Homo sapiens: one gene and its partner. The protein of the gene in region 2 purifies or fractionates together with the protein of the main gene of each other region. This does not show direct contact. Each region holds a gene or a part of one and is shown on either strand. Other genes may lie near its edges.

Region 1 (7,127 bases), on a different chromosome or scaffold from region 2:
ACGTAAAAGCAGCACTGCTTTCCGTTAGTATACATATGTTGACATTACAGAAAAGTACTGATTTTGCATTTTTTATGTTCCTCATCTCCAAATATCTACTAAACACAACCAATTATCAAGCTTCCCCTATCAACATAACTAAGAACAAAGAAAAAAAATCCTAGAAAGATAAATCTTTTGTGAAAATATGTGGCGATAAGCATCATCCATCTATTTGAAAGATCTAACCCTTGATTCATTATTGAATGATCTGATGCCTGAGATGAACTTCAAACTCATTAGAGATGTTATATTCATTCAAGTTAGCAATATTTAGAAAACAATTACAGACTGTAAATTGTACAGACATATTGAAAAAGAGACTATGTTAATTCTGATCCAAACAGCCCGTTAGTTTTGAAACAAGGCAGTATAAAAATCTAATTGATAACTGTGGTTATCAACATCACTGGGTTTTCGTGATAATTAAATTACTTAACACATGTTAAAAACTAGTGTGGGCACGTATTGATAATTTTAGAATGTGAATGATGGGTACATGGAGGTTCAGTACACTATTCTTACTAGTAAAATTTAAAGTTTCCATAATAAACTTAAAAAAAAAAAAAAAACCTTAGAATTGGGCTAGCATACAATAAGGGCTCAATACACGCCATAGGTATTACCCTGTGGGCTACTTGCTAAGATTAAAGGAAAGTGTCCTGGACTGTGCCTAGAACGGTGTATATTTAATGTAAGTTACTATTCTCACATCATCCTTCACAATGTATATTCAGCAAATGCTTATCAATTCACTATTTTTTGAACCATGTGGACTGAATACTTAAGCGTAAATAACTCATCTCTGACTCTGACAGAGATCTACAAGTTACCACATCAACTGTCAATGGGCTCCAGAGACATAATGTGTCCAGAGTGCTGACTTCAGATACTTTTAGTTTCAATTGCCTGAAGGAAAATATGACTGGCTATCTTCATCTTCCTCTCTAGCACATTACATAGTTGCCTTAAAACCAACAAATTAAATAATTCTCTGGTAACACATTCAAAAATGATCGTTAAGTTAAAGATGATCAACATGGAAGATGGGGAACGAAGAAATTAACTAGATCAGTACACTGGACTGATCAGCATACTACTTGGTGAACAAGATAGTACTAGAGGAGTTGACTCCCTTTCCTAAGCAAATACATGAAAAAGATCTAGCAACTCATGAGCCATAAGTGTCAAAATATGTGTTTCCAGCAGACATAAACAAAAATATAAATGATTATTTCTATGTTTCCAATTCCTTCAATCAATTAGCCATTGTTTAAGGAAGAAAAAATGTTCAGGTTGCATGCACAGCATTCAACAAGAAATAACTTTAATTCCCATTTTGGAACTCTAGAGGGCACCAGAAATATGCCCTCCTTCGCACCACCCCTCCTCCCGGGTAACGTGAGCAGCTGCAGAAGCCCGTCGTCTGGTTGCTGAGGTTGGTATTGCAGCAGCAGGAGCGATGTCTGCAGCGGTGGAAACAGCAGCGCCCACTCCCAGCTGCCTCACCAGCCATTACCCAGGCTTCGCCCTGGGGGCAGCTGCCACCCAAGGGAAAGCTCCTCCCCCTCAAAACAACGGGGAGGGCCAGGTCCCATAGCTTAACCCCTACAACCTGACAATGTCCTCTATTAGCAACAAATTAGGGGCAAAGGACTCACAATGGGGGTGTTTTCCTCCTCACTTTCTGCCAAGGATGCACCAGACAGGGCTGAAGGCGATTCTTGGTCCTGGGATAGGAGGAAAAAAGAAAAATGTATCAAAAACACACAACCTGGTGGGAGAACCCAACCCTTTCTGCCAGAAGGAGGCAGAGAAGGGAATAAGAGGTCAAGGAGGTTCGGTCCTTCTATTATTACCCCCACCATGCGCACAACAGCCCCCTCCTGCGTAAGTGGGGCAAAACAGCGCAAAATACATATTTGGGGCCAAAACCCATGTGAAAGGCAAAATCTGGAAGGGAGGGGGCCTAAGGACACCGAGCCTGCTCCCGGGAAGGGAGGGGGGAAGGGAAAACGTTGCCTCGACGCCAGCAAGGGATTTGTATTCCCTCCTAAATTTGCCCACCCAGCGTCATCCCCGTCACTCCAAGTACCAATTCAGAGGTAAGGGGCGGCTCACGTCACTGCTGGGCCGATATCGCCCACATTTGCCCCAAGCAGTTGCCCTGGGCCTGAGGTTTGCCCCCCCCTGCAGTCGGCGACCGGCAGCGCTGCCTCCCCGTCCGCCATTAGAGACCCAGCCAAACAATACGTGCGGAGCAAGAGCCGCGCAGCGCAGCGCCGAGGAAAAGAAGAGCGAAGGAGGGGACCCGGCGGAGCAGAGGCAGCAGCCCTCACCCCGAAAAACTTGGGGACCTCGGCTCCGGTGGACAGGGTGGGAGCGCTGCCCCGAGAGCGGAGACCCAGCCGGGGCGCCCCTCCCCCGCCCCCCGCCGGAGAGAAAGGAAAATGCCCCGCGACCTCCCCGGGCGGCCGGCACCCCCGCCCCGCCGTCCCGCCGTCCCGCCGCCCCGCCGGCCCCGCGACCCCCGCCGCTGGCGGCCGCCTCACCCAGCCCTCCCGGCCTCGCCCGCACTCTCCCAGCCCCTCGGGCCGCACGCAAAGGCGCCTGTGACATGAGCGCAGCCCCGAGCTGCCCCCGAGGCCCCGACGCGGCAGCGGCGACGGCGGCCGCGCCGCGGGGTATTAATCCCGGGTCGGTGGGAGGCTCCGGAGGCTGCCCTCACCCATCTCCGCCTCCCTAGTCGCCTCCGCCTCCGCCTCCTCCTCCGGAGGCTGCGCTGCTCCCAGCCACCCCCACTCTCGGCGGCCCTGGACTGGAAAGACAGCGGGGATAAGCCTCACCCGGTTCTGGCTGGGGCTCCGCGGAACGAACCTCCCCTCCCCCGGCCCACCCCCCTTCGGCGACACGCACAACTCCGCTCGGTCCAGTCCCGGCTTTAGCGCTGGTGAGGAGGAGGAGGCGGAGGAGGCGGCGGCGCGGCCGAGCCCGGGGAGGCCCCGCCCTCCGCGCGCTCATTGGCTGACGGGGAAGGCTGGCCGGAGCGCTTCGGGCACGCCCATTGGCTCCGACGGCCGTCCTTCAGGGCCCCCCCTCGGTAGGGTGGTCCGAAGGGCTGTCCGTCAGGTGCGGGCCACTCCCCCGGCCCTGCCGTTCCACTCCCGCCTCCGCCGGCCCTCGACTCCTGGCCGGGTCCCCTCCCCGCCGGTCCCCCGCCCCCACCCACCGGGTCTGCCAGGGTCAGGAGCCCGAGATTCGCTGCCCGCCGTACCGAACCCGCTTCGGCTCCTCGGGGCCCGGGGCTCTCCGGGACCTACACAGCCCGGGAGACTCCGGCGGGGCCGCCTGCCCTCGCCCGAGCCCGGGCGCCCAGGCCGCGGCAGCGGCTCCCAACGCCTCTGCCCGAGGAGAGCCGCGGCCTCGATGCCCCAACGCCCTCCCTGTCCAGTTGCTTGAAGGCCCCTGCGAGGGGCGAGGCCGGGGAGGCGCTGGAGCGGGTCCGAGTGGGCTTTCGGGACCGCGGGTGAACTGGAATCCCGACCGCGCTGGGGGCAGTGGAGGCCCTTCCACCCTCGCCGCGCCCCGTGGGGAATAGTCCCCCACCTCCCGCCATGGCTGCAGCAGGAGGAGACGACGTCCTCCATTTTGTCGGAACGACTGTGGGAACTTGGGACCCCCTAAAAACCAAACCCCGTGGGGCCGGGAAACTTGTCCTCGGGAAGCCCCAACTGGACTCTGCCATTCGGCCAAGGGAACAACCCCGGCTGCTGGCGTCTGCGTCCGCGGGGCCACAGGGGACGGGCACGACGGTGGAGAGACCCAGACGCAGCTCCCCGCCTCCATCAACCAAGATGGAGGGAGCTGCGGGCTCCCCTGGAGCTGGGCTCCCACCGGTTGGAGGGGCTGAGGCCTGCCCTGGGGCGTCCTTGGGCGCCGCCGTCCTGTGCTCCGCAGCCCGGGGCGCTGGCCCTGCCCAGGCCTCTCTACCGCCTGCCACCGTCTCCTGGTCCTCAATGGTTGATGGAGACTCCATGGAGGCTCCCTCCACAGCCCGCTGCATCGCGGGGCGCACTCGCTGCGGCCGCCGGGGGGAGCGGAGTCAGGGACAGACGACGACAGGCGCCCGAGGAGGGCGGGCCCCACAGGCCACCTCCACGAGGGGTCTTCTCTTTTGTTCCTCGTCTACACCTACGTCTTCGGCGGACGTCATGGTGCTGAACCATTTCCAAGACTCACGTAAAGATGGAAGCGATGTCGCTTTCGTCTCGCCCTGGCGGTTCTTAGTGGGATTACAACTGAGGATGTTGGTTATTTTCCCACCCAAATGGATGGGCGACTTCTCAATTTCACGATTATCTGACACCATTGCCTATTAATAAACATATATGATAATACAGTTTCAAGTTCAACACAATATTGATGAACATGAAGTTTTTAGTGAGGTTAATCACCCGTGAAAGACTGATGTGTAAACTAATAGACGCAACTTACAGAGGATAATCTAGTAGAAGTTGAATTCATTCACTCATTAAAAAAAATAAATCAAGTAGGCTTTCCACCTTGTACTAAATACCTTGAATACACTGTTCTCTTTTATTGAAAAAAATTAATAAAATGTACTTGAACCAGCTTTTCAAAAAGTATCACTAATTTTTAGGAAACTTTGTAACTAAAATTTTTTAGTTTTAAATACACTAAAATAGCCTCTTAAGATTTCATATTACACAGTACTGGTTTAGACTGAAAAACTATCATCACAACAGAAACATCACAACAAAAACAGCCACTATCATCAAAACAAACATCCTCTACTACCAAATTGTAATAATTTGGTGAAAACTTACATCATTCCTTTTCTGCTGCCAGGTCCTATTGAAGTAGCTTCAGCTCATTGAATTTACATTTAGAAGACTAAAGTAGACTAATACTTCCAAATAAGCTCTGTGATAAATGATAGATTGGGTTGCCACGTACTGTTCAGTTGGAGCTCTATACTGCTACTAATTCCCTAGTGTTATTGCTGTTTTATATAACTAATGAGCAACTGTGCTAATTATAGTATTTATTATTTACTTTTTAAATTCATTCAGGTACATCTGTCCATGCAACTGTTCATTGGTTTGCTGGTCTGATATCAGGGAGAATTTTTCGTTGAGAATTTAGAACTGGGAAGAAAGTATTTGTCATAATGTTAAAAAGCAGACAATTTTACATAAAAGTAATTTTAAAAATAAATGTTTGAATGTTCATAACAGCATTATTCATAATTTCCAACATCCCTGAAATGTCCATCAACTGATGAATGGATAAACAAAATGTGGTACATCCATACAATGGAATATTATTCAGACCTAAAGAGGAGTGAAGTTCTGATATACACTACAACATGGACAAACCTTAAAGACATTATGCTAAGTGAATAAACAAGACACAAAAGACCACTGAATATTTTATTCCATTTACGAGAAATGTCTATAATAGGCAAATCTGTAGAGACAGAAAGTAGATTACTGGTTGCCCAGAACTGGAGAAGTGGGGAGTAGAAAATGGTAGCTAAAAGTTACGAGGTTTTTTAATGGAGTGACTCAAGTGTTCTAAAATTGACTGAAATGATTGCACAACTGTGAATGTGCTAAAAACCTCTGAACAGCATACCTTAAATGTGTGAATTGCATGATATGTCAATTATATCTCAATAAATCCACAACTAAAACTGTGTGTGTGTGTATTAATCTATTCTGTACCTGTCAAAAAGCATACCAGACATCCAAGAGGCAGCTGCAAGACGTGAGCAAAAGACTTGTATTTCAAATATCTGGCCACTCAAAACCTCAGAAACTTACCTTCTCTCTGAGTCCATTTCCTTATTTGTAAAGTAAAGTAATAAACAGTTGTTGTGGCTGGGCATGGTGGCACCCGCCTGTAGTACCAGCTACTCAGGAGGCTGAGGCAGGAGAATCGCTTGAACCCAGGAGGCGGAGGTTGCAGTGAGCCGAGAGCGCACCACTGCACTCCAGCCTGGGCAACAGAGCAAGACTCCATCTCAAAAAAAAAGAGTTGTTATAAGGACCAAGTAACTTCTGTGAAAGTGATATAAAAGTGTTAGGTTTAATTGCATTTCGAAGACCAAGAGCTCACCGTTAATTGAGATGTAGTAAAACTGACTCTGAGCACAGCTTAAAGAGCCAGACTGCCCCCATCTGAATTCTGGCATTACCCACAACTAGCAACTAGCTAGATGCTTTTAGTCATGTGTAAGCTTCTCTAAGCCTCTGATCGTTTCATCATGTGTGAAATGTAGATAATAATTCCTCTTTCATAGAGTTTTTTAGGGGGTGAAACGAGCATACATGTATAAAACTTGCACCTTGCACCTCACTTAATATAGACCTCAGTAAATTTTAGTTGTTTTTATCATTCATACTTGACTCAATGAAATATTAGAAAAAAATTATAATATTCTACTAGGACCATATTGATATCTCTACCACCAATACTATGCTACCGCATAATCCAAATAATAATAATAATAATAATAATAATAATTGCAGTAACTAAATCAAGTAGTCTTGGGGCCGGGCGCAGTGGCTCATGTCTGTAATCCCAGCACTTTGGGAGGCCAAGGCAGGTGGATCACTTGAGATCGGGAGTTTGAGACCATCCTGGCCAACATGGTAAAACCCCATCTCTACCAAAAAATACAAAAACTAGCCGGGCAGCGTGGTGCATGCTTGTAGTCCCAGCTACTCAGGAGGCTAAGGTGGGAGAGTTGCTTGAACCCGGCAGGCAGAGGTTGTATTGAGCTAAGATTGTGTCACTGCACTCCAGCCTGGGCAAAGAGTGAGACCCTGTCTCAAAAAGAAAAAAAAAACAACAATATTTTAACAATGGAAACACTGAAGAAAATTTTCTATGAAAGAAGGAACAAAGACTGAAACAAGTTTAATATTACTTATTGATATATAAACATAGTACTCCTGGGTAGGATGCTTCTCATAGGATTCAAAAATAAGAATTTTAAATAAAAATTGTTAGTTTTAAGTTGACATTTATAATTTGCTTATACTGAATGATGTTTGGTATTA
Region 2 (9,682 bases):
CAGCTTCTTCCTCATAGAGCTGGCAGTGATTTTCATTTCCAGCCCTCGCGCTGGACAGCACTTAGAAAATGTCTGCTGACTTGACTCACCTTCACTAGGAGATCACACCTTGGGAAATGTGGAGATGCCCCAGAGTGTGGATAAAGGGTTGGAAGGAGTGAGGGAGAAGCATCTTGAGAGGATTGGGACTCTCCACCTAATAGATTTCCCCAAACACCAATCCATTTGCCTTTTGCCATCTCATTTTTAAGAAGATTTTCAAATTTCTTGATATATTTTAGTGGAGTGAGGAGTAGAAGTATGGATTAAGAGTGAGAATAAATGTATTTTAAAAAGATGTGTCTATAGAAAAAAGACTATTTAAATGAAAAAACAGGAATCCTGGCTCTTTAAAATCTAGAGCTATATCCCTCTGTGAGTGTGAGCTACTGCTTGGATGAAAGTCAATCTGCTGTAGCAGAAAGTCCACAGGGTTGGATGTCAGGGACATGACTTCTGGTTTAGGATCAGCTCACATGTCATCTCTGGACCTCAGTGTTCTCATCTGCAAAATGTGGGGTACCCAAGATAGTCCTTAAGGCCTCTCAGCTTTCACAGTTAGGTTTGTCCCTAAAAACCCAGGTAGGGCCGGGCGCGGTGGCTCGCGCTTGTAATCCCAGCACTTTGGGAGGCCTAGGCGGGCGGATCACGAGGTCAGGAGATCGAGACCACGGCGAAACCCCGTCTCTACTAAAAATACGAAAAATTAGCCGGGCGTGATGGCGGGCGCCTGTAGTCCCAGCTACTTGGAAAGGCTGAGGCAGGAGAATGGCATAAACCCATGAGGCGGAGCTTGCAGTGAGCTGAGATCATCCCACTGCACTCCAGCCTGGGCGACTGAGCGAGACTCTGTCTCAAAAAACAAAACAAACAAACAAACAAAAAAACAAACAAAAAAAACCCCAGGTAGGTTTATCCTTTGAGAAGGGCAGTGATTGACAGTGCTTCCTTGATTCCTACCAGTGAAGTTTTTCAAGCAAATGGATTATTTCCTATAACTAATAATGATACTGATAGTAATAATTACTGTCTATTGATCACTTTGTGTTGGATAGTGGGTGAATCATTCTATTTACATTACTCCACTTAATTTTCACAACATCCTCATGACGTAAATTTTGGGTTTTTGTAGGTAAGGGAATTGAGGCTCAGAACGTTTAAGTAACTTAGAGGATTCACAGACAGTGAAATGATAGAGCTAGGTTAGCATCTACATCTGCCTCCCAGCAGAACCAACATTCCTCTAATAAAATGGGCATGAAACCCACCACCCTTTAATACTCCCAGGTGCTTGTCACTGGGCCTTCATTTATTCAGACACCAATGGAACAGACATTTATAGGACATTTACTATGTGCCAGGCACTGAGCTAGGCACTGACAGTTTGAAGATGACAAAGGTGTAATCCTGATCCTTAGGGAATTCCAATTAGGTAGCGTTTTTCTGCATTAGAGAAATAAAGTAAAGGCGAATGAAAGAAAATGGGTTCTTGCTATAAAAAGCCCAAACCACCTGATCCCTCTCCCTGTGACCCACAGGGGGAGTCTGCACTGAGAGACGCCAAGGAATAGGAAGCCAGAGAAGAGAGACTGACATAAAAGAGGATGGCTTCAAGATGGGCGAGACCAACCTGTTACATGAGCTGTGAGCGGCGAGGACAGTTCCTCCACAGTTTCAAACAGTTTCTTGTAACCACCAGCAGGATGCTCAACCCTGAAATGGTGGAAGAATAAGGAAGAAGCCCATGTTGATGCTCAAAGTCCGCAGAGATAGAGGCAGAGCTGCAGGAGAGAAGGCACTCTAGGGCTGGCTCAAAGCCTGTTCACTCCTGCCGGTCTAGTCTCAGCTGGGTGGGGGTGGGGGTGGGGGGAGAAGCGAAGGTGAGGGCGGGAGGAGCACGTGAGGCTGGGGGTGGGGAAGACTACTCAGGTATGGAAGGGGGTCCCAGATCACTGCTCTGATGTCAAGAGACATGACCTCTCTTTTAATGTCAATGGTTACAGTGAACTTAATCCTGTCCTCTGCAGTTTTTCCTTACTTCGGAAGACAAATCAATCAATCCTACTGCCATCAGTTCACTTCCTGAAATTTGTTCCTAAACAGGGTCCTTCCCACAGTATTCTCCCACCCTATCAACATGCTCAGCTCACAGCATCATTGATTTTCTTGCCTCAAGGAGAGACCCATTTATCTCCTTCCTAGGGGTTGAGAGATGACAGCTTTTTGGGTCAGGTACCTCATCTTTCATTATTCACTCATATTATACCATAATTTTTTCCCCATCATCTCATTTCTCTACCAATCCCCAAGACCTACAGTACTTTTTCATCATAGTCAGACCAGGAGATTCAGGTTCTATATTTTTGTTTACTTTCTACATCCTCTGTTCAGTTTCATGTTGTAACTTCAAAGAGTGGAATCTCTGACCAGACTCAATTATAATAATTACCTTTTACTAAACAATTACTATGTCCTACATACCATAAAAAGAACTTTGCATGGTATTATCTCTTTTAAATCTCACAGTAACATAATGGAGTAAAAGCTATTGTGACATCTTTCTATATACAGGAAAAGCTAGACTTAAAAAGTTAGGTAATTTGTCCAAAGTCACACACTAGGAAATGACTGGGCAAGGAGTGGAGCCCAAGTCTGTCTGAAATCCCCATACTCAAGACTGCTTCCAAACCCCGGGCTAAGTCACACAAACCCCCCATAATTTGGACCTGAATTCTAGCTAGTTGCTTTAATACATAAGCAGGAAAAAATTTCCCCACCAAAATTCAAGGGTCTTTCCTAAACAGGTCATTAATCAATGCCTTCTCTTCAGGAGCCCTTGAAATAGCACATTTATCATGAATCCATGAAGGTGTTTTAAAAAAGTCTCCCAGAGATACTTACTGGATAGACATTTTCTTCCAGTTCAGGATCCAGAGTTCTGGCACCAACTGCAGAATGAAGAAGGAAGTTCTCAGCCAGGGGCCTTTTTATGCCTTCTAAATCCCTTAAAAGGAGTTATGGCTTTGGGAGCCCTTCCCCACCCCTTCAGCTGAGGGAGGGGGAACAGAAGTTGCTTTCAGCTCTCAGATCCCCCTGATGCTTGGCTTTATTTGGGCTTGCTGTTCCCATAACAGTTGTTTGGCTGTTTTCCAGAGACCTCAATCCTTCCCAAGGAGAATGAGAACAGATTAGAAAGAAAGGAGCTAGGTGGGAGTGGCCAGCGTCAGGCCTGAGCTGATCCCAGTCACCCCACTGGACCTTGGCACCATTCTCTGGGGCCCACCTCCCCCTAATACCTCTGTGCCTTCATTCTCACCCTCATTCATTAACTCACTTATTTTTAAAAATATCTATTACATACCACCTATGAACCAGACAGAGATGGGTATTGTCCCTGTCCCTGTCTTCACAGATCTTATAACTCTGTAAGAGTTATAGTAAACAAAGTATTCAACCATGTTTGATTAGTGCTAAGATTGGAGAAGTATAAAATGTTATGGAAGCACATTGTGCACCTCTAACCCTCTCTAGCAACCTTATTGATACCATTCAGTGCCAATATTCTTCCAACCAGGTTGAGGACTTTTGATTTGCTGAGAATGAAATTCTGCATATCTTTGCTTGTCACTAATGCCTGTCTGCTCTCTGCCTCACCTTCTTGTCCATTGGTATATGTTTGGCACTCTGAGAGTATACAGCATCAATTCATTCATATCTCCAATACTCTTTCATTAAGTCTCAGTTGCTTGCCAGCACAGACAAGGTACTGCCCAAAGAAGTCCTTGGAAAACAGGCAAGATATATACTATACCAGCTAACAACCTTAACATTTTTTTTGAGAAACTCATTAACAATTTTAAATTTAGTGTGCAGTTATGGCTACTTACCCTAGGGGTCTTCTTCAACAAAACTGTATAACAATTAATCCAAGTGCTTCCCAAGATATACAACAGTAGCTTCATTTCCTTACAGTGAGGGCATAGGCATGTGATGGGCTCCACCCGTTAGGGACAGTGGTAGAAGTCCTAATGGTAGCACCTGGGGCTTAGCATCCATAATATCTCTGCCCATCCAAGGCAGTTGTAGTGTCTCCATTCAACAGTGGAGCCCGGAATATTGTTACTGGCTGGGTAGCCTCCAAGCTCCATCCTTTAGCCATCCCAGAGATTGTTAGCTCTCTAATATTTACAATATTTGCGTTCTGCTTTATTAGAGTTAGTTCCATTATTTGCAGCTAAGAGCCCTATGCCTATAAAATGATGGTAGTATAAGATACTACCATCATATTTTGGGGGGTATAATCACTTTTGTTGGATCTTGGAGAGTAATAGAAGAGGAGATTAATATCTATCTTTCCACATTAAAAGACCTGTTTCCAAAATATTTCAAATAAGAAACTTCTCCTCAAAGTACAAGGATAATCCAAATCTTCTTAAACCAGCAATAAAAGCATAAAATTTTTATTTAGAATTAAAGCAAATACTTCTGTATCACAAACACAATATTAAACTTCAATAAATATACCACTAATTTGGAGTGAGCACTTATTTGCACAATACCATACTTTTTTTTTTGCTATGAGAATGCTTTATTAGGCAAAACCATATACTATGAAAGTGCTTTAAAATGCAACAGGAGGAGATGTGAAGACACAAAGAACAAGTGCCTAGTGACACATGGATATCAGAACACACCAAGTAAAGTATCCACACTGCTTCCACCCTTTACCAAGAAAAGGAAGGATCTAGGCCACCTCCTCCTCGTCACCGTAGGATGCTGTGGTACCACCCAGGAAGAACATTGATACTGGCATTAGGAACCTCCAGGAGAAAAAGGAAGTATCTAAGCTGAGATGGGATAAATATATAAAAGTTAGCCAGTCAAAGGGCAGGTAGAAGAGTGTTCAGGCACAGCTTGTGTTATTTATAAAAGTCTAGAGGCTAACATAAGGTGGGAAAATAGCTAGAGATGAAACTGGACTAGAGATAATCATAGGCCAGATTGTGTAGAACATCATAAACTAGGCCAGGCACAGTGGCTCACGCCTGTAATCCCGGCCCTTTGGGAGGCCGAGGTGGGCAGATCACGAGGTCAGGAGATCGAAACCATCCTGGCTAACACGGTGAAACCCCGTCTCTACTAAAAATACAAAAAATTATCCGGGTGTGGTGGTGGGCACCCGTAGCCCTAGCTACTCGGGAGGCTGAGGCAGGAGAATGGCGTGAACCCAGGAGGCGGAACTTGCAGTGAGCTGAGATCGTGCCACTGCACTTTAGCCTGGGTGACAGAGCGAGACTCCATCTCAAAAAAAAAAAAAAAAAAAAAAGAACATCATAAACCATTTACAGAAATCCAGACCCTTGTCATGAGAAAAGGGGAATCACTGAAATATTTTATCCAGAGGAGTGACATGATCTGATTTGCATTTTAGTAGGACGACTTAGAATGCATTGTGGATAATATACTGGAATAGGAGATTTGGGCAAGACAAATTAAAGGGAGGCACAGATCAAACAAGTGGAGATAGCTGTTGTAAGCAGGTACACTGAGGGATGGATACGAATAGTGAAATTCAAGAGATACTTCAGAGGAGGCCTAATCTAACTCTGGGACTGGTAAATGTGTTGGGGAAATAAAAGGCATAAAAAAGGATTACCGGTGGGTTTCTGGTTTCTGGTACAATTCATTCAGATAATGCACACCGTGTGTGTGTGTGTGTGTGTGTGTGTGTGTGTGATGTTTCAGGGATACAGAGAAAATGAATTCTGATTGTGATTTGAACTTATTTATTAAAGGAGAAGATCCCCGGGGCCTGTAATCATTTGAGAGCCTAATAGGGAGGCTGAATGAGTTAGCATCTGAAGGATAAGCTCAGTGTTGACATAGAAAAAAGATGGAGGTGGCATTCTTAGGGAAAGATGCAGAGTGAGAGAAGGCAGAGGAATGAGCATGTTAGAAAGACTTTCTCCTGCAGCATTTTTGTTGGATTTTATTTTCTCAGCAGTCTCTTCTCTTCGAGAAGAGCTACAGGCCATGTTGTCATACCTGTACACTGTCAGTTCATTGGAGAGAAATTCCACTAATATCAAGACCCAGCAGCTTTTTAAAATTTTCACCTCTCCCCTCCCATTACAAGAGGCTGAAAGAGAAGTCTTTGTCGGAAAGAAAGCGTATACTAGTTGAGAGAGAGAGCATTAACAAACTGCATTTAAGTTCACCTCCTGGGAGATGAGAATCCGGTCTTGCTGGTGCCCGTGTCTGCACCAAGTGCCTTTCTTAGATATCCCTGTGCTGCCTTTGGTGTTCTGGGGCTATAACCACATTGTTTAAGAACAGCAACTGGTTTTAGCACTTTTTGCATTGTTTTGCGTCTGTGGTATCCTTTATGCTTCAACGTATAGATCCTAGAAGTCAGCTTCTTGAAGGATATTTCTTTTAAAAGTACAAATCATGGCAATTCATTCTAGGAATGCTCACAAACCCGTAGGCCATATGAATCATCAAATTAGTACGCTTGGAGAAATTCAGGATGAAAACTAATTTCTGTGTATTAAATTTCATTGAACCCTGAGCTCCTCAGGTATAAGACAGGGAAAATATGCAAAAGCATTCTTTAGCCAGAAGTATTCCATATGAATATTAAGTAATGCTTATTAATGTCAATTCTCAGGAAGTTTGAGAGTGTCTAATCTTCTAGCTACTACTTCCTACCTCAGAAGTAACCCATTTTTTTCTTATTCTGCCATTGGTGTGAAGTTAAAGATCAGATGTCCACATCCTTTCAAAGCATGATTTTGACCTCTTTGCTCCTATATCCTCAAATGTAGACCTCTTTTCTAGGTCTAACTTTATCTTTCTGTGGTTTCAGTGTGATACACCGGATCCCCAATGTATTGTTACTTCTCTTTTCATCATCTCCTTTTATTCCTTCCCCACCTTAATTTTTTGTCTTTTGGTAAAATCAGATCTTTATGTCCAATTTCTGTGTCTGCCTAAGAAACTGTTATTTTGACATACTTTGGTGTATTTACCAAAATAATATTCCATGAATTAAAATAGCAAAACACCTTTCTACAGAGATTTCTAAATAGAAACTGATTCCACATTTCTTTGAAGAAACTGGTTTAGAGGGTATTATAAAAGCTGCTTTTTCATCCTGATATTAGGCAGATCAGCTGGGGCCTGCAGGTCATGGTGAGGAGTTTGGATTGAGTTCTGAGAGCAATGGGAAGATATTCAGGGCTTTAAACAGGGGAATGACTGAGGGATCTGATTTATGTTTTGGAAAAAAATCACTCCCACTGGTATTTGAAGAATGGATTATAAGTGTCTAGAAAGGAAGTAGGGAAACTGGCAGTTCATTTCAGGTGAGGTGATGATGGTGCTTAGATTACAGTAGAGCAATGCATATGGAAAAAAGATTGAAAGATTTGAGATATGTTTTGTAGGTAGAAATTATAGGACACATGATAGGTTGATATATATGGGATATAAGAAAATGAGTTAAAGATCATCACCTATCTATTGCTAACATTGTAGCATAAAAGCCAAACAGCAAACCTCAGTGTCACACAAGAGTAAGTTTCTCGGGTGGTTGGCTAGGTGTATCTGCAATATGTCTTAATTTGCTTTCATAACTGGAGTTTACCTTGCTGTCTAGATACTGGCTGAAATAAGTGAGGTTATTTGGCTCTGCTATACCTCTCCTCTCCAGCAGGCCAGCCAGGGCTTATTCCCCTGGCAATGACAAATGAAAGAGCAAGTGATAACAGGAGAAGCCGCTTAAGGCCTAGGCTCAGAACTGATCTACTGTCACTTTCACCACTTTCTACTAGCCAAAACAAGTCATGTGGCCAGCTTAGACTTTGAGTGGGGTGAAAATAGCTTTGACCTTGGTAGTCTTCAGTGAGAAGGACTACAGTGTCACACTGCAGAGGTCATGAAAACAGGGAAGGATGTAGAATTGAAAGCATTTTTTCAGCACATGGGAGACCCAAATTCGATTTCTAGGTTTTAGAAAGAGCAATTGAATGACTGTCAAACTAGTCTCCAGGACTAGGGGAGAAATTGCTGAGTGGAAATGGGTATATTACGAATTCTCAGTTAAACGTGAGATGTGAGAAGCCTGTAAGACATTCATCTTCTCCAAGACACTTACTTGTCCCTCTTGCTCCTTCCCCAATAGCAGCCCTCATGCTACCTACCCTGAAGGAATTTTCTCAGTAGAGGTAGGATTTGACCCAAAGTAGTCTGAGCCTACATTTTATAAGTATTTCTTCCATCCACATATAGAAGTTCTAGCAAATATAATTTTCTCATTTTCATTACATGCTCAATGATACTTTAGTACTCCTTATAGACAGATGATCCTGGAGGCTTCCCAGCTGACTTGCTGGAAAGTTAGCTGGGAAGGGTTGAAATCTCTCTTCAACTCATTCCCAACCATACTGCCAGAGGCATTCTTTTAAAGGAAAATCTGACCATCTTCCTTCCTTGAGGTTTTTAAGAGGTCTACAGAACTTACTCAATAAAGTCCAATCACTTTAGCACAGCTATAAGATCCTTCCCATCTTGTCCCCTGCTGGCTTCTTAGTGCCATCATCTGCCATTTTCCCCTTTCCTTTGTGCTCTGGCAGTACCAAGCTGGCCACTGTCTCTCATGGATTGCATATTGTTTCAGGCCTCCCTTCACTTTGTTGAGCCCTTTGCTTGGGCCTCCCTTCCTTCTCTTGCCCGTCTGTCAAATTCCCAGTGTCTGTCATAACCCTGATAGAGTACAACCTTCCTGGAATGCCTCAGACAGGATGGTATCCTTTGTTCTTTTTCTGAAACTCATATATGTCTAGACCACATTATATTATTTCACTCGTTAGCATGTCTGTCTTGCTCTTCTTGCTTATTGTAGAGAAATAGAATTGTCATGCTTAGCACATTGATATTTGGCTAAACTGTTCAATACCTGTCAGGGTGGAAACTGGAGACAGCCACCTGTTCCCTCAGGGGAAAATGGACAGACTAGCAAAGCTTTGCACTCACTTCTGCTTCACACCCATAAATCACATGCAAGGCAACCTTCCCTGCTCCTCTTGTCTCTCCACCACTGCCAGAACTTAGTCTGCCCAGGCATCATTCAAAAATGTCATGGGGAAGAGGGACCTAGGGATAGCCCTGGCCATGTATCTTTCTATTTTCCCCCCTCTAGTGGATGTCAGAGTGCCCTCTTGCTGGTGGGTTTCATCTCTCATTTAGAGAATCCTTCTTGCCTTCCACTGCCTGTGTGAGTAATAAACATCAAAATTACTTGTGGTCTCTGGCTTGAGTGTGATATGTTTTGACATTTAATGTTTTGAAAAGGTAGCGCCTGGCAGCAGGCTTCCTGCAACACTTCTGCTTCATTATGCTTAGGGCATCAGTACAAGAGCTTAAAATTTGTTGATGGTTGACTAAGTTAGTAGAGGCCCACTAGAAGAGCTGCCTGAATGAACTGAGCAGGCAAGAGTAAAAGTTTTGTTTATAAATGAGTGCTTAATGATTTTTTTAAAAAGAATTTGAAGTATTTTACTTAAAATCTTGATTGTACTCTGATTTTAGTTAATCAGCTCTTGATTCACATCCACCAAAAAAAAGCACAAAAGAGGATTCT

What was found.
Region 1: the proteins of RPE65 (region 2) and ZMYM2 purify together in Homo sapiens (affinity purification with mass spectrometry; 2 studies listed by BioGRID and IntAct, with this or other methods). This does not show direct contact.

What each region holds. Positions count from the first base shown.
Region 1 is NC_000013.11:19,954,600-19,961,726, reverse strand, and holds the start of ZMYM2 (zinc finger MYM-type protein 2), read right to left. Parts: upstream 3,001-7,127; 5' UTR 2,886-3,000; exon of another isoform or gene 2,768-2,885; intron 2,704-2,767; exon of another isoform or gene 2,592-2,703; intron 2,477-2,591; exon of another isoform or gene 2,135-2,476; intron 1,770-2,134; coding exon of another isoform or gene 1,701-1,769; intron 1-1,700. UniProt on the Homo sapiens protein: Involved in the negative regulation of transcription.
Region 2 is NC_000001.11:68,446,955-68,456,636, forward strand, and holds the start of RPE65 (retinoid isomerohydrolase), read right to left. Parts: upstream 3,001-9,682; 5' UTR 2,952-3,000; coding exon 2,941-2,951; exon of another isoform or gene 1,753-2,940; coding exon 1,670-1,752; exon of another isoform or gene 1,578-1,669; intron 1-1,577.